Linked DNA regions of Homo sapiens: region 2 is linked to region 1. The links come from fine-mapping of genetic effects on plasma protein levels. Region 1 holds a variant in brackets. A gene starts in the other region. All regions are shown on their reverse strands.

Region 1 (9,816 bases):
ATTTTTTTTTGTATTTTTTTTAGTAGAGATGGGGTTTCACCGTGTTAGCCAGGATGGTCTCCATCTCCTGACCTCGTGATCTGCCCGCCTCCAAAGTGCTGGGGTTACAGGTGTGAGCTACCACGCCCGGCCTTCTCTTTTTTCTTTGTTTTTTCTTTCTTTCTTTCTTTCTTTCTTTCTTTTTTTTTTTTTTGAGACGGAGTTTCGCTCTTGTTGCCTAGCCTGGCGTTGAATGGCGCGATCTCGGCTCCTCACAACCTCCGCCTCCCGGATTCAAGCGATTCTCCTGCCTCAGCCTCCTGAGTAGCTGGGATTACAGGCACGCGCCACCATGCCCAGCTAATTTTGTATTTTTAGTAGAGATGGGGTTTCTGCATGTTGGTCAGGCTGGTCTCCAACTCCCATCCTCAGGTGATCCGCCCGCCTTGGCCTCCCAAAGTCCTGGGATTACAGGCGTGTGCCACCGTGCCTGGCCTCTTTTTTCTTTTTCTTTTTTCCTAGGCTTAGCTCAGCTGTCTGAGGGACATAGAACAGACATCCCTTGGGGAGAAAGTTGATTTTGGGGAACGTGTGGATGTGTTGACTGTCCCATAATTTGAGGTTTATGGTGGGAGGCATGAGAACATTTTGAAAATGAGAGAATGTCAGAATGAGAAGTTCTCCAGAGTCCAGGAGGCAAAGGGAATGCTCACAGCAGCCTTTAGGAGGTGGGTGCTGTGGTGGTTGGGTAGTTGTGGCAGCGCCTACGTAGCCTATAGTCAGGTAGGCGAGAGGAATGTCTGTGGCATGCTAGGCATCTGGGTGCTGGGTGTCCACCCAGGAGGAGCAGAGCTTGTGACCCTCATCTGGGCAGGTGACCAGGAAATGGAGGTAGCAGTGTGCTCCCCATCCCCTTTCTGCCCAGCTGTGACATTGTTGGTGTGCTGTCCCTGCGCCAGCTGGGGATGCAGGGAGTGGCCTACACATCTCTCTTGTAGAAGCTTTTCTGTATTGTGGGGTGGAGTCTGTTTCTACGCACGGAGCAGACTGACTTTCCAGAGTGCTAATGGAGGCAGAAGGAGATGTGGTTTCCTGGTGCTGTTGGACAGAGGGACTCAAATTTGGAAACAGGCCCATGGTTCATCAGAAGAAGCTTAACAAAAGAATGAAGACTCTATTATTTCCTCCCTGGCTGGCTGAGGGAAGGCACAGAAAGACTCGATTTGAAGCCAGGTTCTGCCACTCAGTGATGTGACACTGGAGGAGTTACCTGTCCTGGGTTTCTCTATTTGTTGAAATTGGAACTAAAATAGCTCAGGGTGAGGCACAGGCACACATGCAGTGGCCAGCCCAGTGCCTGGTGTGAAGTTGGTGGGCTGCAGATGTTACAGGGGATGCTCACCTCACTCCCCACTGCGCAAGCCAGGGGCAGGCGCGAGGTTTCCAGGCCTTGCAAATGGGAGATTCCCCAGCTTCTTAATGAGTGAAGCTGATTTGCTGGCCCGGAGGGAAGGGGCCCACCATGCTGTGTTCTGGGCTACTTCTGGGCTAACCTAGCATCTGTCACTAGTCTATAAATGGACACGGAAGTGTTTTCCAAAGCACAAGCACTCGGTGTCTTGAATGCCCAGGCAGCCGCACCAGCACCCCTTCCTCCCACCTCAGCTGCATGAGCCCTCTGGGGTTTCTGCCCACTGCAGGTGGCTGAGATGTGTGCTCTTCCTTCATCACTTTATAGGGGCTCAAAATTCAGAGGCCAAATTGCCTGCTGTAGGGTCACATGGTGGTGGTTCAGAAAATAGCCTCCTTCCAACCCCACTGGAAACAAGGAAAAATAAAAAATCAGAAAATAGGTTTTCTGCTCACCAAGCCACATTCCCGGCAGGCTCCATGTGGCAGCCTGGACTCCAGCCCTGCACTGCTCCCTATGTGATGGGCCTGCCAGAGACACATGGTTGGGCGAATATAATGGCAGATAAATAGACTGCCCTTCTCACCACCCATGGCCCTGTCTGCTGTGTTCTCTCATCGACGCCTGTTTTGTTTTGTTCTAGTATTTGCCCATCCTTTTAGTGCTTTCCACTTACCAGAATCTTTGACTCTTTGCAATTTTTCTTTCACCATGACCCTTTTCCTCCCCAAATAAACCAACCGCTGTCTCCTCCCTCTCTGCCTTTTCTCTGCCAAATGTAATTTGTTTTGTAAAGTATGTCCGCCTCTGACAGCCATCGTTTTGCCCCATCTGTTCTGCATCTCAGAACTCCCCTTGATTGGCAGGAATGGGTTATGTGACCATGGCAGTTTCCAAGGGCAGGGGCATTCAGGTGACCTGCAGTGTGTTTCCTTGAGAGGCCTCCTACCAGGCTGGGAATCCGGTCTTGAATTTCTGCCTGGCATTGTCCAGCCCTTCTAGCCACTCAGAGACACCCAGCTCAGATGATGGCGATCCAAAGTGAGGTGTAGTTCCTTGAAATACAGTGGAAGGAGTTGCTAAAATTTGACTCTGGTAAAATAGTTCTCGGACCCTTGAAGTTGACTTATTATTTGTTTTCTGTCAATATCACCCTGTGTGTAATGTTTTTTCAGGTAGGAGATGGCTTGGTGAGTAGGAATTATTTTCAGTTTCAAATCTCATTTTGGTTTTCATTCCTCTGAAAATTAGCAATACAGGGATGAAAAGAATTGTGCCTGTCTTGCACTATTGTGCACTGTTCTTGAACTAAAAATAGTGCTTCACATCATAAGCACTGTATGTGTTGCCATTATTAGTAACCTTTGCAGTGATGATTGTGCTCATGGATCACCCAGACACACTCTCCCTCTTGCTGCCATCCCCACCCCATTCACCTGTCTAAAACAGGTACTGTATGTCAAACACACACCATTCTGTGGCTACTCCTTGAATGGTTCACTGAACATTTTAGATGGCTTCATGCTTACAGAGTTTCTTTCTTTTTTTTTGAGACAGAGTCTCACTCTGTCACCCAGGCTGGGGTATAGTGGTGTGATCTTGGCTCACTGCAACCTCTGCCTCCCGGGTTCAAGCAGTTCTCCTGCCTCAGTCTCCCAAGTAGCTGGGACTATAGGCGTGTGCCACCATGCCCAGCTAATTTTTGTATTTTTAGTACAGATGGGGTTTCACCATGTTGGCCAGGCTGGTGTTGAACTTCTGACCCCAGGTGATTCGCCCACCCCAGCCTCCCAAAGTGCTGGGATTACAGGCACGAGCCACCATTCCCGGCCAGAAATTTCTTAAGAGATACTTCTTGGTCCTGCTCTCCACTCATCCTCAACCAAAATGAGAACTCTGTGTTTGTAGTCAGCTTAATCAGTTGTGGGGATCACAACTCCCAAGTGTCAACATTAAAGATTGCAATGTATATTCTCCAAATGTTACTACCTTTGTATCTTGTACTATTTATGTACATGCTGTCATGGTATTCGGAGATATCAGAGACTTAGTGGTAATTTTGTTTGTTTTGTTTTAGTGGTGCTTTGCCTCATGGTGTCAGTTCCATTCCAGCTGAGGCAGGCAGGTTTTGCTTCAGACCCTGCAGCCTGGAACAGAGCACTGCCCACCTTTCTAATGAAGCTTAGGCTGGGCACAATGGCTCACACCTCTAATCCCAGCACTTTGGGAGGCTGAGGTGGGCGGATCATGAGGTCAGGAGATCGAGACCATCCTGGCTAACACGATGAAACCCTGTCTCTACTAAAAATACAAAAAATTAGCCGGGAGTGGTGGCTTATGCCTGTAGTCCCAGCTACTCGGGAGGCAGAGGCAGGAGAATCACTTGGAGGCAGAGGCAGGAGAATCACTTGAACCCAGGAGGCGGAGGTTGCAGTGAGCCAAGATTGCGCCACTGCACTCCAGCCTGGTGACAAAGCAAGATTCCGTTTCATAAACAAATAAATGAAATAAAGTATTGTATTTAGCCCAGTAAGTCCAAAATATTATCATTTCAACATGTAATCAATATAAAGCAATTATTAGGACTGGGCACTGTGGCTCAGATGTGTAATCCCAGCACTTTGGGAGGCCAAGGTGGAAGGATCGCTTGAGGAGTTCAAGAGCAGCCTGGTCAACATAGTGAAACCGCATCTCTACAAAAAAATTTTTTAATTAGCTGTGGGTGGCGGCATGTGGTACCTGTAGTCCTAGCCATTCTAGAGGCTGAGGCAGGAGGATTGCTAGAGCCCAGGAATCAGAGGCTGCAATGAGCCATGATAGTGCTACTGTACTCCAGCCAGGGTGAAAAGAGTGAGACCTTTCCTCTAAAAAAAAAAAAATTACTAGTGAGATATTTTGCATTTCTGTTACTAAGTCTGAGATTTGGTGTGTATTTTACACTTATAGCACATCTCCATTGGACTAGCCACATTTTGAGTCCTTGGTAGCCAGGTGTGGCTAGTAGCCACCTTCAGGTCATGGGCAGCACAGTTCTCTTGACAACCGTAAGTCCTAAGATTTCAGGATCCATGGCCCCCATCCTTCAGCCTATTTGTTTTGTGGCTGGAATTTATAAGCATGGACTTAAAAGAGATAATTAAAATTGGGGTCTTTTTTAAGAGTTGATTTGTTCTTGTAATGTTCCCATGGCTCAGTAAGTGGCTATCAGTGGATGCTGTAAGACACATTCTGCTCACATAAAGTCTTGGAGAAGAGCTCCCAGCAGGGATGCACAAGGCCTGGCTGCTCCTGAGTGTCTGCAGACAAGATTAGGAGGACACATAGCTTCCACAGTGCTGTGCTGCTCTGTTACCTAGAGCTGGGGTTGGGAGGGTAAGAGGATTTTCTGTGGGTAGAGAAAATTAAGAAATAAATCAAGCAATAAGTCAACACATTGTCT[T/G]TGTCTTTTTATTTAGCGGAATAGAAGATGAACTCAACTGAATTCACCGAAGATGTAGAAGAAGGTAAAAAAAAAATGCCCTTTTTGAAAAATGTTTTTAACTGAATACTTTTGATCAGGTCATACATTCACATGGTCCAAAAATATACAAAGTTATATAGTGAAAAGTCCCCTCCACCCACACACTTGTTCCCCGGTTCCCATCCCCCTCCACCCACACACTTGTTATAAGCACCTTGTGTCACTTTTTAAAAATTACTTTTTTAAAGCACAAAAAGATAATATTTTATGTCTCTCCTTCCACTGTCTTCCCCCCCAAAAAAAGATGTTTAAACCAATTTGAACTAAATGCTCTTGGAACATGGCTTTATTGTACAGCACTAGTGCGGTGAGATAAAGATTGCATCGTTGGAAAGCTCAGGTTTGTTACAACTAGACATCATTATCTCAGCACTGGTGTCAAAGGGCGGCCCACAGACACCCTGCTGCTCAGAGAACCCTGCTGATCTCTGAGCAGCCCTGGTTTTTCCCACTGAGCCCTATTTCTTCTCTGACACAGTTCTAAAAAGTATCACTGTGAAAGTGGAGACAGAGGCTGAAGATGCTGCTCTGGACTGCTCCGTGAATTCCAGGACTTCTGAGAAGCACTCTGTGGACAGCGTCCTCACTGCCCTGCAGGACTCCAGCAAACGAAAGCAGCTGGTCAGCGATGGCCTGCTAGACTCTGTCCCCGGCGTGAAGAGGAGGCGGCTGATCCCCGAGGTGAGGGCCTAGCTGCTGTCACTCTTTGCTTGGGCTCTAACCCTCTCTGATTCCATGCTGAATCTCCCTCTTGTTTTGGGCATCCTGGCAACTGCTGAACCCTTGGGCATGGGAAGGTTTCATTTAAGCTATCCCATCTCTGGCTTCAGTTTCTCGAAAGTGTCTGTCTTTAACTGGAATTCTTGTTTGTGTTGGGATTCCTGGTGGGTAAAGGGAGCCTTCACATTGCAGCTGCTTTTGCGTTATTTTGCTGTGCTTTGTGGGGGAAAGCAGGAGCTTGCTGATAGTGAGGACGGTTAACGTAAGCCTACCACACTTGACATAGTAGCTGATTCTTGCAAAAGTGGGGCATTAGCTGGAGGTCAGGTCTTTTCCTAAATTAAATCTATCATTCACTTATTTAAATAGAGACTGGATCTCACTATGTTGCCCAGGCTGGTCTTGAACTCCTGGCCTCAAGTGATCCTCCTGACTTGGCCTCCCAAAGTGCTGGGATTACAGGCGTGAGCCATAGTGCACAGCCAACTCTTTGTTTAATTGGTTTGTTTTAACTCTCCCCTGTTGGATGTTAGGGCAGATCCAAACAAATTAGGAAGTTATACATTTTAGGGATTTGGTTAGGCTTTAATTTGCATAATGATGAGACTAAGATTTTAACCAAGATTTAAATATACATGTTTATAGTGAGGACCTACATTCCACATCATGGAACACTGAGTGATAGGTTTGTTGGGGTTTTTTTTTTTTTTTTTTTTTTTTTGAGACGGAGTTTTGCTGTTCTTGCCCAGGCTGGAGTGCAGTGGCGCAATCTCAGCTCACAGCAACCTCTGCCTCCTAGGTTCAAGCGATTCTCCTACCTCAGCCTCCCGAGAAGCTGAGATTACAGGCATGCGCCACCATGCCCAGCTAATTTTGTATTTTTAGTAGATACAGGGTTTCTCCATGTTGGCCAAGCTGGTCTTGAACTCCCGACCTCAGGTGATCTGCCTGCCTTGGCCTCCCAAAGTGCTGGGATTACAGGTGTGAGCCACTGTGCCTGGCCATGAGTGATACTTTTATTTACTATTTTATTTATTCAGGGTTTTTTTTTTCTAACTCTTTATTCTGGTCTGAATGGCTTTTCTTTTTTAAACAACTTGTTTCTCTAATTTATTTGGGCTTTAATTTTTTTTTTTTCATCTTTGAGACAGAGTTTCACTCTTGTTGCCCAGGCTGGAGTGCAATGGCGCGATCTTGGCTTACCGCAACCTCCGCCTCCTGGGTTCAAGCAATTCTCCTGCCTCAGCCTCCCGAGTAGCTGGGATTATAAGCGTGTGCCACCACGCCCGGCTAATTTTTGTATTTTTAGTAGAGACAGGGTTTCTTCATGTTGGTCAGGCTGGTCTCAATCTCCTGACCTCAGGTGATCCGCCTGCCTCAGCCTCCCAAAGTGTTCGGATTACAGGTGTGAGCCACTGCATCAGGCCCAAAACAACTTTATTAAGATATAATTCACATACTATACCTTTCACCAATTTAAGTTATATAATTTAATGTTTTTGTTTGTTTGTTTGTTTGTTTTTGTCTGAGACAGGGTCTCGCTCTGTCGCCCAGGCTGGAATGCAGTGGCGCAATCTCAGCTCACTGCAACATCTGCAGTGTTGGTCCAGGCTGGTCTCAAACTCCAGACCTCAAGTGGTCTGCCTGTCTTGGCCTCCCAAAGTGCTGGGATTACAAGCATGAGTCACCGCGCTCAGCCCTAGTTTAATGGTTTTTAGTATATTCCCAGAGTTATGCTATTTTAGGACATTTTTATAACCTTACAAAGAGTCCCTGCCCATTAGCAGTAGCTCCTCATTCCCTACTTTTCCAGCTACTGACAATCACTAATGTACTTTCTAAGGATTTGCCTATTGTGGGCATTTCATTTTTATTTTTAATTGATTGATTGATTGATGGATGGATGGAGTCTCGCTGTGTGGCCCAGGCTTGGAGTGCAGTGTCATGAGCTCAGCTCACTGCAGCCTCTGTCTCCTTGTTCAAGCGATTCTCCTGCCTCATCCTCCCGAGTAGCTGGGATTACAGGTGGGCACCACCACGCCTGGCTAATTTTTGTATTTTTAGTAGAGACAGGGTTTCACTATGTTGGCCAGGCTGGTCTCAAACTCCTGACCTCACGTAATTCACTCGCCTCGGCCTTCCAGATTGCTGGGATTACAGGCGTGAGTCACTATGCCCGGCCAATTCTAGGCATTTCATGTAATGTAATCATATGTTCTATGGCCATATGTGTCTGGCTTCTTAGCATAATGTTTTCAAGGTTCATCATCTATGTATCAGTACTTCATTTCTTTTTGTTTTAACAGACTTTATTTTATAGAGCAGTTTTAGGTTTACAGAAAAATTGAGCAAAAGAGACAGATTTCCCATATACTTCCTTACCCCTGCATGTTTATAACCTCCCCCATTGTCAACATTGTATACCAGATTGATGCATTTATTACAACTGATGATCCCCCATTGACACATTATTGCCCAAAGTCAGTAGTTTACATTAGGGCTCACTCTTGCTATTGTATAGTCTGTGGGTTTGGACAAATGTATATACCATTTGTAGTATCATACAGAGTAGTTTTGCTGTCCTAAAAATCTGTTATGCTCTATCTGTTCATCCTTCACTCCCACATAACCCCCAGCAACCACTGATCTCTTTACCATCTCCATACTTTTATCTTTTCCAGAATGTCGTGAAGTTGGAATCATACAATGTGTAGCCTTTTTAGATTGGTTTATTATACTTAGCAATATGCATTTGAGTTTCCTCCATGTCTTTTCATGGCTTAATAGCTCATTTTCTTTTAGCACTGAATCATATTCTATTGCCCAGATGTACCAGAGTTTATTTATTCATTTACCTACTAAAGGACATCTTGGATGCTTCCAAGTTTTGGCAATTATGAATAATGCTGCTATAAACATCCATGTATAGGTTTTCATGTGGACATAAGTTTTCAGCTCCTTTGGATAAACACCGAGGAGTGTGATTATGTTTAGTTTGGTAAAAAACTACCAAACTGCCTTCCAAAGTGGCTGGACCATTTTACAGTCCCACTAACAAGTTCCTCTTGCTCCACATCCTTGAAAGCATTTGCTGTTGTCAGTGTTCGGATTTTGACCATTCTAATAGGTATGTGGTAGTATCTTGGTTTTTTTCTTTGTTTAGTTTAAAAAAAATTTTTTTTTTGCAGAGATGAAGGTGGTCTCACTATGTTGCCCAGGCTATTCTTGACCTCCTGGCCTCAAGCGATCCTCTTGCCTCAGCCTCCCAAAGTGTTGGGATTACAGGCATGAGCCACTGTGCCCAGCAGTTGTGTTTTTGTTTATGTTATTGTTGTTGTTTGAGACAGGTTCTCTCTGTTGCCAGGGTGGAGTGCAAAAGCAGTGGCACAGCTAGGTGTGGTGGTTTAACACCTGTAATCCTTGCATCTTGGGAGGCTGAGGCAGGTGGATTGCTTGAGTCCAGGAGTTCCAGATCAGCCTGGGCAATATGGCAAAACCTTGTCTCTACAAAAAATACAAAAAAATTATCCAGGCGTGGTGGCACACACCTGTAGTCCCAGCTACTCGGGAGGCTGCGGTGGGAGGATCGCCTGAGCCTGGGAGGTCGGGGCTGCCGTGAACCATGGTTGTGTCACTGCACTCCAGTCTGGGTGACAGAGTGAGACCCTGTCTCAAAAAAAAAAAAAAAAAAAAGGCAGTGACATAGTCAGCTCACTGTAATCTCAAACTCCTGGGCTCAAGGGATCCTCCTCTTTCAGACTCCCAAGTAGCTGGGACTACAGGCATGGCAGCACCATGCCTGGCTAACTTTTAAAGTTTTTGTAGAGATGGAGTTTGTTGTTCGTTTTATTTATTTATTTATTTATTTATTTATTTATTTATTTATTTATGAGATGGAGTTTTGCTCTTGTTGCCCAGGCTGAAGTGCAATGGCGCGATCTCAGCTCACTACAACCTCTGCCTGCTGGGTTCAAGCGATTCTCCTGCCTCAGCCTCCCGAGTAGCTGGAATTACAGGCACGCACCACCACGCCCAGCTAATTTTGTATTTTAAGCAGAGACGGGGTTTCTCTATGTTGGTCAGGCTGGTCTTGAACTCCCAACCTCAGGTGATCCACCCCCCTCAGCCTCCAAAGTGCTGGGATTACAGGCATGAGCCACCACGCCCGGCTGTTGTTCTCTTAATT
Region 2 (9,544 bases), not on the chromosome of region 1:
ACCATGCTTCAGCAGTGCCACAGCCCTGAAGGTCCAGACTGAGGAGTTGCCTCTCCTGACTCAGTGCTGCCTCAGTTTACCCACGTGCTCCATGGACCTTTTTGCTGAGGGTCGAGCCGCAGGCCAGGCCCTACTGTGCCCTGGGGTCTGAACACGGTGGTCTTGGGCAGAAGAGGTCAGAAGGCAGAATAAGCCAATGCTGGGGGTGCCCAGACCCCGCCTTTGTGCCCAGCCCACAGCCAGGGTCCCCGGCCTGCCACCTTCCTCCTCCCGCCTCCTCTGCCCTCCTCCCCTCTCCCCTCCCCTCCTCCACAGTCCTTATAGCCACACCCCGCAAGGAAAACCCAGACTCTGGCGACAGCAGAGACGAGGATGTGCGTGGGGGCTCGGCGGCTGGGCCGCGGGCCGTGTGCGGCTCTGCTCCTCCTGGGCCTGGGGCTGAGCACCGTGACGGGGCTCCACTGTGTCGGGGACACCTACCCCAGCAACGACCGGTGCTGCCACGAGTGCAGGCCAGGTGAGGCCTCAGGAGGGGTCGCCACGCACGGGCACTCCAGGGACTGGGGGCTGGGGCAGGGATGGGCCAGCCAGGAGGCTGGTCCTGGGGAGGGGGCGGGTGAGGGGCCGGCCAAGCCTGGCAGAGGAGCCGCCTGGGGGGGTCCACGGGCGCAAGCCTGGGGCCTGACCGCTGCCTGACGCCGGCCTCTGCTGCAGGCAACGGGATGGTGAGCCGCTGCAGCCGCTCCCAGAACACGGTGTGCCGTCCGTGCGGGCCGGGCTTCTACAACGACGTGGTCAGCTCCAAGCCGTGCAAGCCCTGCACGTGGTGTAACCTCAGTGAGCTCCCACCTGGCCCCACAGCCCCACCCAGCACAGGGGGCGGCAGCCTGGCACCCACATTCCCACGCAGCAGCATGGGGCTCCCACAGCCGCAGAAACGAACCTCAAACCACAGCGGGGTCTGCTCCGCCACAGGGGTCCTTCGAGGAGCTGAGGCGTCTCCCAGGGGCACCCCCTCTCCCTCCGGGGGCCCAGACTCGGCCCAGGCCACGTGGAGTCGGGGAGACCACGCTGGCCATGTGGCCTGGCCTTGCTGGCCTGAGCAGTGAGGCTGGGGGGTTGGGCCATGGAGACCCTGCCGCAGGCGGGGCTGGCGGCTGGAGGCGGTGGAGGGGTAGGGAAGGGTGGCTGGGGCTGCCACGGAACCAGCCCCAGGTTGTGGCCAGGAAGGGAGGGCCCAGGAGCCTCGGGGGCTGCAGGGGCTCCAAGTCTCAGGGGAGGCCGCAGACCCCTGCCCACGGCCCTCTGTGTGGTGGGGAGGCCAACCTGTCCTCCAGTGCCCACGCTTCCTGAGGACCCTGTCCACAGCCCCCACCTGACCACCCCCCCATCCGGCCCCTGCTCAGGAAGTGGGAGTGAGCGGAAGCAGCTGTGCACGGCCACACAGGACACAGTCTGCCGCTGCCGGGCGGGCACCCAGCCCCTGGACAGCTACAAGCCTGGAGTTGGTGAGCTCGGTGGCTGCGGCCGGCGGTTGGGGGTGTGCATAGCGGCTGTCTGTGACGCAGATGGGCCGTGGGCCGCAGGGACCTGGCCCCACCGGTGCCTCCTCTGGCATCCTCAAGACCGAGCTCCCGGGTCAGGGCCCACGGGTGGGATGTGGGCAGGGAGGGCTTCCAGAGGCCAAACCCACCACCCAGCCATGGGGGGCAAGTGCCTGCCCCACAGGCTCTGCCCCATGTCCCCAGCACCCGGGGCCTGTGGGCAGCCCCTGACCACCCTATCTTTGTTGCAGACTGTGCCCCCTGCCCTCCAGGGCACTTCTCCCCAGGCGACAACCAGGCCTGCAAGCCCTGGACCAAGTGAGGGGCCTGGCCAGGGGCTGGGAGGGGCTGGGGGGGGGTTGGGGTGGTTAGGAGGGCGGAGGAGCTGGGGAGCTGGGAGGGGCTGGGGGGGCAGGTGGGGTGGGGGCAGTTTTGGGGGAAGGGGAGGTGCTGGTGGCCCTGGGGGCCTGGCTATGTGGCTGGACCTGGTTGGGGAGCAGGAAGCTGCTGCCTGGGGGCAGCCTTTCCCTGTGGGTGGAGCTGGGTGTGTGGGACCCTCACCCTCCGCAGCTGGGAGGCCCTGGGGGCACAGGACAGGGAGGTGCTGGTGGGGGGTGTAGATGTGGGAGAAGGGTGTGTGGCCTTGGAGGCCCCTGTGGGGGGCACGTGGGGCTGGGCAGCGTCCTTGGCTGTCACTGGCCTGGTGTCTGTGGTAGATGCTGCCTGTGGCTGGCCAGCGTGGACCCTGTTATCCCCACCGCATCTCCCGGGTCCCAGGGGGTTTCTGGCCTGAGCAACACCTCCTGTTCCCCAACAGCTGCACCTTGGCTGGGAAGCACACCCTGCAGCCGGCCAGCAATAGCTCGGACGCAATCTGTGAGGACAGGGACCCCCCAGCCACGCAGCCCCAGGAGACCCAGGGCCCCCCGGCCAGGCCCATCACTGTCCAGCCCACTGAAGCCTGGCCCAGAACCTCACAGGGACCCTCCACCCGGCCCGTGGAGGTCCCCGGGGGTAAGGGCGCCTGGCCCAGCCCAGCGGGGCCCCCAACCCGAATAGGAGAAGGGGAGGGCGGCATGGGGGCCCCTCCTGTGGACCCCACCCAGCAGACCCCTTCCTGCAGGCCGTGCGGTTGCCGCCATCCTGGGCCTGGGCCTGGTGCTGGGGCTGCTGGGCCCCCTGGCCATCCTGCTGGCCCTGTACCTGCTCCGGAGGGACCAGAGGCTGCCCCCCGATGCCCACAAGCCCCCTGGTGAGTGCCTCATGGCCCTGCCGCACTGCTCCTGGCGGGTGAGGCCCACCCACCAATCTCTCCTTTTTTCCTCCCCAGGGGGAGGCAGTTTCCGGACCCCCATCCAAGAGGAGCAGGCCGACGCCCACTCCACCCTGGCCAAGATCTGACCTGGGCCCACCAAGGTGGACGCTGGGCCCCGCCAGGCTGGAGCCCGGAGGGTCTGCTGGGCGAGCAGGGCAGGTGCAGGCCGCCTGCCCCGCCACGCTCCTGGGCCAACTCTGCACCGTTCTAGGTGCCGATGGCTGCCTCCGGCTCTCTGCTTACGTATGCCATGCATACCTCCTGCCCCGCGGGACCACAATAAAAACCTTGGCAGACGGGAGTCTCCGACCGGCACTGTGGGCTGCACACCTGTGGCATGGAGGCTTGGGCCGTGCCCGCCTCTGACTGGAGAGGGGTCTTGGGAGGCTTGGGCCGTGCCCGCCTCTGGCTGGACAGGGGTCTTGGGAGGCTTGGGCCGTGCCCGCCTCTGGCTGGAGAGGGGTCTTGGGAGACTTGGGCCGTGCCAACCTGTGGCTGGAAAGGGGTCTTGGGAGACTTGGGCCGTGCCAACCTGTGGCTGGAGAGGGGTCTTGGGAGACTTGGGCTGTGCCAACCTGTGGCTGGAGAGGGGTCTTGGGCCAGGGTGGAGGTGAGGGTAGCGGGGTCAAGTGGGACCCTGGAGGTTGGTCCCTGGGTGCGAGTTCCAGATTGAGTGGGGAGCGGGGGGAGAGACTGGGAAAGCTCAGGCCCAAGGCTGCCTGGGGTGGAGGTTCCTGGCCAGGCGCTGACAAGGGCAGCTGGCCCCTGAGCCCCGGGTTGCCCAAGGAGCTTGGGAGTGGCTGACCCCCGGGGCTCTGTGTCCTTGGAGGAGGAGTGTAGAGACCTGCCCCTCTTCCCCTCCACACCTACGCCCACCCCTTGCTGCACCTGGAAGGGGGTCCCAGGGCCCCTGAGCACCCCGAGGAGTCCCTGCAAAGGGCCCACACGGCCCCTATGTCCCTGCCATAGGTGTCCAGGGGGACAGTCACCTTGGAAACCACAGTTTCTGCTTGAGCCAACTTTCTGTCCACCCTGGGCCCCGGCCGTCCCACTCCTGCGCACTTAAGAGTCCTGGGATCTGAATGAGAATGACCACAGCGACTTCATGTAACGTGGCCCCACAGTGGAGAAACCCAGGCATCCGCCAGCAGCGTGGATGCGCGAGTGCTGGCGTGTTCAGATGAGCTCCCAGCTCCTCGGCCCACACCACAGGTGTCCACAGACGCTCCCAAGGCCCTGGGGCCGTCCCCGGCCGTGCGGGAATCTTCTCAAGCTGGTGTCTGGGAGTGGGGTATCCTTCGAGCAGCACAGAGCCTGCTCCCGAGCGCCAGTCACGCCCGAGGCCACAGCTCGGGAACAAGGCGGGAGCAGCCCTGCAGGCTTCCCGCAGGGAAGACACCCCGGGCGTCTAAGCGACATCTGTGTCCCTCGGGAGGCGGAGGTGCCTGTTCGCCTCCATGGTGTCAGGGGCTGAAGAGAAACACTCCCGAGGGCTAAGACGTCTCACTGCACTTGTTTTTTCTTTCTTTTTTTTTTTTTGCCGGAGTCTTGCTGTGTCACCCAGGCTGGAGTGCAGTGGTGTGATCTCAGCTCACCAACCTCTGCCTCCCGGGTTCACGCCATTCTCCTGCCTCAGCCTCCCAAGTAGCTGGGACTACAGGCGCCCAGCACCACACCCGGCTAATTTTTGTATTTTATTAGAGACAGGGTTTCACCATGTTGGCTAAGCTGGTCTTGAACTCCTGACCTCAGGTGATCCACCTGCCTCGGTGCCCTGGAGTACTGCGATTCCAGGTGTGAGCCACCACGCCTGGCCCTCACTGCACTCATGAGCAAGAAACACACAGCCGAGGCCGGTCACGGTGGCTCACGCCTAGAATCCTAGCACTTTGGGAGGCTGAGGCCAGACGATCGTCTGAGCTCAGGAGTTTGAGACCCGCCTGGGTAACATGGCAAGACCCTTTTCTATGAAAAATAGAAAAAATCAGCCGGGTGTGGTGGTGCATGCCTGTGGTCCCGGCTACTTGGGAGGCCGAGGTGGGAGGATCACTTGAGCCCAAGAGATGGAGGCTGCAGTGAGACGTGACTGGAAAAAAAAAAAGAAATTTAAAAAAATTACTTAAGAAGAAACACATGAAGCCTCATGGAAGGTTTTGCTGAGGGCCTGGCACAGCCTGGACACTCCGGCTACCGTGGCTGGTGTGGCCCAGCCCCGCAGCTGCACCCGCTGCCCCACACAGCGTCCCTGGGCCAGCCTTCCCTCTCCCTGCGTCCTCCAACAGCGCACGCTGCCCACGGCTGTCCAGGCCTCCTGTGCCTGGCGGATGGCTCCCCCCTGCCGGTGTCGTGGAAGTGGGGAACCGGCCCCGGGGGTGCACAGTGGGAGCGCCACGCGCCACTCACAACAGCCCAAGGTGCCGGGACCACAGGTGGCTGTAAGGAAGACGCCCATCTCTGGCCTCGGGCTGCCCTGGACCCCTCCTGCCTCTGCAGCTGGTTTTCTCCCCTGGGTCTCTCTCTCCTCAAACCTCTGTCTTCCACCCACTCTCTGCTAACCACAAGCCTCCCCCCCCGCAGCATAGGGAAGTCAGAGGCCGTCCTGTCCCCCATCCAGCACCTTCACCGAGTTCCCCGGGTTCCTGCACACGGTTCAGCCTGCAGGCCCTGCACAGGGTTGGGGCCGCGCCTCTGAGAGCCCCCCGCCCCCCGCCCCGTGGGGCAGGCGAGGCCAGACCTCCAGGCAGGATGGCGGGTGGGTGGGGGAAGGGGTCAGGTGGCCGGGACTGGAGCGGCCAGATCCTGTGGGGCCCGCAGGTCGACGGCTATGGGAAAGGGGCCTCCTCCCCAAACCTGGCGCCCATACCCATCGCTTCCTGTCTCCTCCCCTCTGGGCACAGCACCCCCCAGGCCCCGTGGGACTTATTCCCCAGCAGGACCCCTTGCCGCACCCCCAGATGGACACGGGGCCACCTCCTCTTGGTCTCCATGCTCACCCTCCCCGCCCCCTCGCCTGACGCCATCTCTGCTGGCAACTCCTGTGCCATCTGTGCCGAAGGCCCTGCCTGAACTCTGGCTCAGTGCCCATCTGCACCCTCCCCGTGGGGCCTCACAGCTGCCCTTCTGGACGTACGCAAGGGCTGTCCCTCGCCCGGCCCGTGGGCTGCTCTGCTGTGTGAATGCCCCGTCATTTGTGTCACCGGTGAGCTGCTCAATAAGATGAACAAGTCACCTCCAGCCTCGCAGCCCAAGGATAGGAGTCACGGGGAGCCGGGGAGGGGCCTTCTGCGGCGAGAGGGATGGGAGGGTGGACGTCACACCCCTGCAGCCCCTCCGGGGACCACCCTGTGTGGCAAGCTGCTCTCCGGCTGTTCAAAGTGTCAGCTGCGCCACGGGGCGGGGGGGAGGGGCTCCTCTGCCCGCTGGCCGCCTCCCACTTGGCCCCATAAACTGCTCGCTCCTCTAACTCTGTCCCTGCCTCTAGATGGATGACTCACACCGTGTGGTCTGATGAGCATTCTTTATTTTTTGTGATGGAGTCTCGCTCTGTCACCCAGGCTGGAGTGCAATGGTGCCATCTTGGTTCGCCGCAACCTCTGCCTCCCAGGTTCAAGCAATTCTCCTGCCTCAGCCTCCCGAGTAGCTGGGATTACAGGCGTGCGCCACCACGCCTGGCTAATTTTTTTTGTATTTTTAGTAGAGACGGGCTTTCTCCATGTGGGTCAGGCTGGTCTCGAACCCCTGACCTCAGGTGATCCGAGGCCCACCTCGGCCTCCCAAAATGCTGGGATTACGGGCGTGAGCCACTGATGGCGCCTCTTTCTATCCAGGGGCCCAGACCCCCTCCCAGCCTCGGGGCTGAAGATCTCCAGGCCTCTCAAAGGCCCCCAGGCCCAGCTGGCCCCACCCCTTTCCTTCCGAGCGTCGGGGCGGCCTGGAGCTGCAGAGACCCCTTCCTTCTCTGCAGTGTCTGAGGGCTGCCTCTCCAAGGCAGGCTCCTACATCTTGGATTTGAGAACTCCGGGGTGTCACAAACAGCTAATTCCTGTCATTTACCTTGGAAAAGGAGGAACCGCCTTACGGGGTGAGGCGGTGGCTGCAGGTCTCAAAAGGGTGTTGAACCACATCCACGCTCACGTTCCCGAGAGCCCCCACCCCCAGCATTCATGGGGGTCTCCACCTGTGCTGGACGGCGCAGAAGCAGGGCTGGGCAATCCAGGGAGGCTTCCTGGTGGAGGCAGGGTCCCAGAACCCCTCGGTGCCCACAGGGGAAACTGAGGCTCAGAAAGACATAGGACAGTCTCCCAAGAGCTCTGCGAGGGGCTCCTCCTCAACTCCCTCCGGGACCTGGATCTGTCTGGTGTGACGGATGAAGGTGGCTCTGAGAGACCGGGCCCTGGGTGCCCGCGGGGGCGGCTGACACTGTCCCGAGGAGGCGCCAGCACCCTCTCGTCTCCCCACCAGCTCCTCCTGGTGCCCCTCCCAAGCCCCGGGGAACTTCCCAGGTTGGCCTGAGGGGGGTCCTGGAGAGCTGCAAGCAAGGGGGAGGGGAGCCCACAGGCCTGCAGCCCATGGTGAGTTTCACACCTGAAGCCAGCCAGGTGGGGTGTGCTGAGCCGAGGGGTCCCTGTCCCCATTCTGTGGGGTTCCCCAGCACGGGGCTCCATGGTTGAGGCTCTCTGGGGGTGGCCAGAATTTGTGGAGACCTCTCGGGGACTCGCAGATACCACCCGGAGGCAGTGGGATGGAGGAGTGATTGGCTGACCCCCGCCCTCCAAGGGGCCCCCATGGGACAAGGTGCTATAAACGCCGCCCCCTGCACTGGGGACACCAATGTGGCCGCAGACTTTGCATAGAAAACCTTTCTGATCCCCGCCAGCCTGGTTTCCCCGCCCCTGCCGGCGACCTGCGGGGGACCGGGCTGTGTCCGCAGTGTCTACACCCCCTCCTCACACGCACTTCACCTGGGTCGGGATTCTCAGGTCATGAACGGTCCCAGCCACCTCCGGGCAGGGCGGGTGAGGACGGGGACGGGGCGTGTCCAACTGGCTGTGGGCTCTTGAAACCCGAGCATGGCACAGCACGGGGCGATGGGCGCGTTTCGGGCCCTGTGCGGCCTGGCGCTGCTGTGCGCGCTCAGCCTGGGTCAGCGCCCCACCGGGGGTCCCGGGTGCGGCCCTGGGCGCCTCCTGCTTGGGACGGGAACGGACGCGCGCTGCTGCCGGGTTCACACGACGCGCTGCTGCCGCGATTACCCGGGTAAGTAAACCGCGTTTACTTAACGCGGACCGGCCAAGGCGTCCCGCGGAAGCCGGGATGGGTGGGCGCCCCCCTTCCCGTGCTCAGACCGGCGTTGCTGAGGTCTAAGGAGGGTGGGCACAGAGCCGCCAGCAGCGGGAGCCTTCCGGAGGGAGGCAGGATCCCAGAGGGAGGCGGAGGTGTGCCAGCTCCAGCCAGTGGCCCCGGCCGGGAGCAGGGGTGAGCCAGGTGGGAGCGCCCTCAAGAGGGGTCTGGGGTCTGGAGGTGGAGGACGGCTGTTCCAGGTCCTGCTGGGCGGGTCGTGAGCCCTTGGCCATCGCCCAGCCCCCTCCTGCCCAGTTGAGGGCCCCCCTGCACCACCGTCTGGCCTGCTGCCTGCCTCTGACCTGCACCTGGGGATGAGGGTTCAGCTGACACGGCTGGTCTGGAGAGGAAGCTGGCAGGGAAGTCACCCCAGAGCTTCTTCCTCCAGGGCCTGTGGGTTGGGAAGGGAGGCTCTGTCCGGAGGCCCAGTGTGGCTGGTGGTGGGGACAGCAGCGCCCAGACACCAGGCAGGCGGCCTCTGAGGTGTCGACGGGCCTCCAGGGGACTGTGCACTGTTGGGGGCCACCCCTGGGTCCTGCAGGGGCAGCTCCTGGTTGCATATGGAGTTAGCACCTGGGCAGGGGCAGCTGTGGGGCGCAAAGGGGGAGTAGCCAGGCCACATGGCCCCAGGAGAAAGAGACAGCTGGATAAACCCAGGGTCCAGACTCCCAGCCAGGAGCCCTCTGCTCCCTGGAGCCAACTGTGGGTGGAGAACGGACAACCTCACTCCCCTGGAGGGCCGAGGGGAGGCCTGGGGAGGAGGGGGCCTCAGCCCAGCTGCTGGGGGGCTGGCCTGTCTCCTGCCCAGGCGAGGAGTGCTGTTCCGAGTGGGACTGCATGTGTGTCCAGCCTGAATTCCACTGCGGAGACCCTTGCTGCACGACCTGCCGGCACCACCCTTGTCCCCCAGGCCAGGGGGTACAGTCCCAGGGTAAGTCCTGGAGGTGCCTCTGGGAGTCCACACAGGCCAGGGGTTCCACTAGGGCCCGAGGCAGAGCTCGTGGGCACAGGTGTCCGGCGAGGACATGTGGTGTGTGGGGTCCGGAGTCCTGTGAGGCCGGGCAGGCCAGGCCATGCTCAGGCACCACAGGCCATGAAGCTCTGGGGGTGTCCTGTCCCTGCTTTCTCAGCCTGGGCTTCTCCATCCAGCACGAGGGCTGTGAGAACCCTGCGGGGAGGTGGGGGCGGGTTCCAGGAGCTGTCTGGCTCTCAGGCCCGGGACACCCATCCTGTCTGTCCTCACCACATACTGAAAGAGCCTGCCCTGTGCCCCCCGGAGTCCTGTCTGGGGCCTGGGGCTGCACCCTGTTCTGGAAGGAGCAGCTCAAGTCCTCTTAGCGGCTTG

Which allele goes with the higher level. Positions count from the first base shown, and alleles are read on the strand shown. Strength reflects both the effect of a copy and how common the allele is.
In carriers of allele G in region 1, the plasma level of the protein whose gene starts at base 347 in region 2 tends to be higher than with T alone (weak association).

Evidence for each region. A credible set is the group of variants that fine-mapping cannot tell apart. PIP is the posterior inclusion probability: the model's chance that the variant is causal. The UK Biobank Pharma Proteomics Project read protein levels with antibody pairs (Olink). The fine-mapping took linkage between variants from a reference panel, not from the people measured, so its PIPs are less certain.
Region 2: TNFRSF4 starts here. The variant in region 1 is the best candidate, but not a certain one, in a credible set for the plasma level of the TNFRSF4 protein (UK Biobank, PIP 0.86).

Annotation. Positions count from the first base shown.
Region 1 is chr6:107,094,326-107,104,141 of GRCh38, reverse strand. It overlaps BEND3 (BEN domain containing 3), which reads left to right. Exons shown (of 4, transcript NM_001367314.1): 2 at 4,846-4,893; 3 at 5,389-5,591. The coding sequence starts at 4,857. Among named protein-coding and RNA genes, the nearest start is that of BEND3, 16 kb to the left of the region's middle. The variant T/G (reference allele first, on the strand shown) is at 4,830.
Region 2 is chr1:1,204,956-1,214,499 of GRCh38, reverse strand. TNFRSF4 (TNF receptor superfamily member 4) reads left to right here and starts at 347. Exons shown (of 7, transcript NM_003327.4): 1 at 347-517; 2 at 715-837; 3 at 1,407-1,508; 4 at 1,796-1,862; 5 at 2,362-2,558; 6 at 2,668-2,796; 7 at 2,875-3,160. The coding sequence starts at 373. The coding sequence ends at 2,945. It overlaps TNFRSF18 (TNF receptor superfamily member 18), which reads left to right and starts at 7,908. Exons shown (of 5, transcript NM_004195.3): 1 at 7,908-8,115; 2 at 9,008-9,130. The coding sequence starts at 7,929. RefSeq lists silencers at 1,220-1,269, 5,473-5,582, 6,163-6,252, 9,125-9,325 and an enhancer at 5,449-6,328.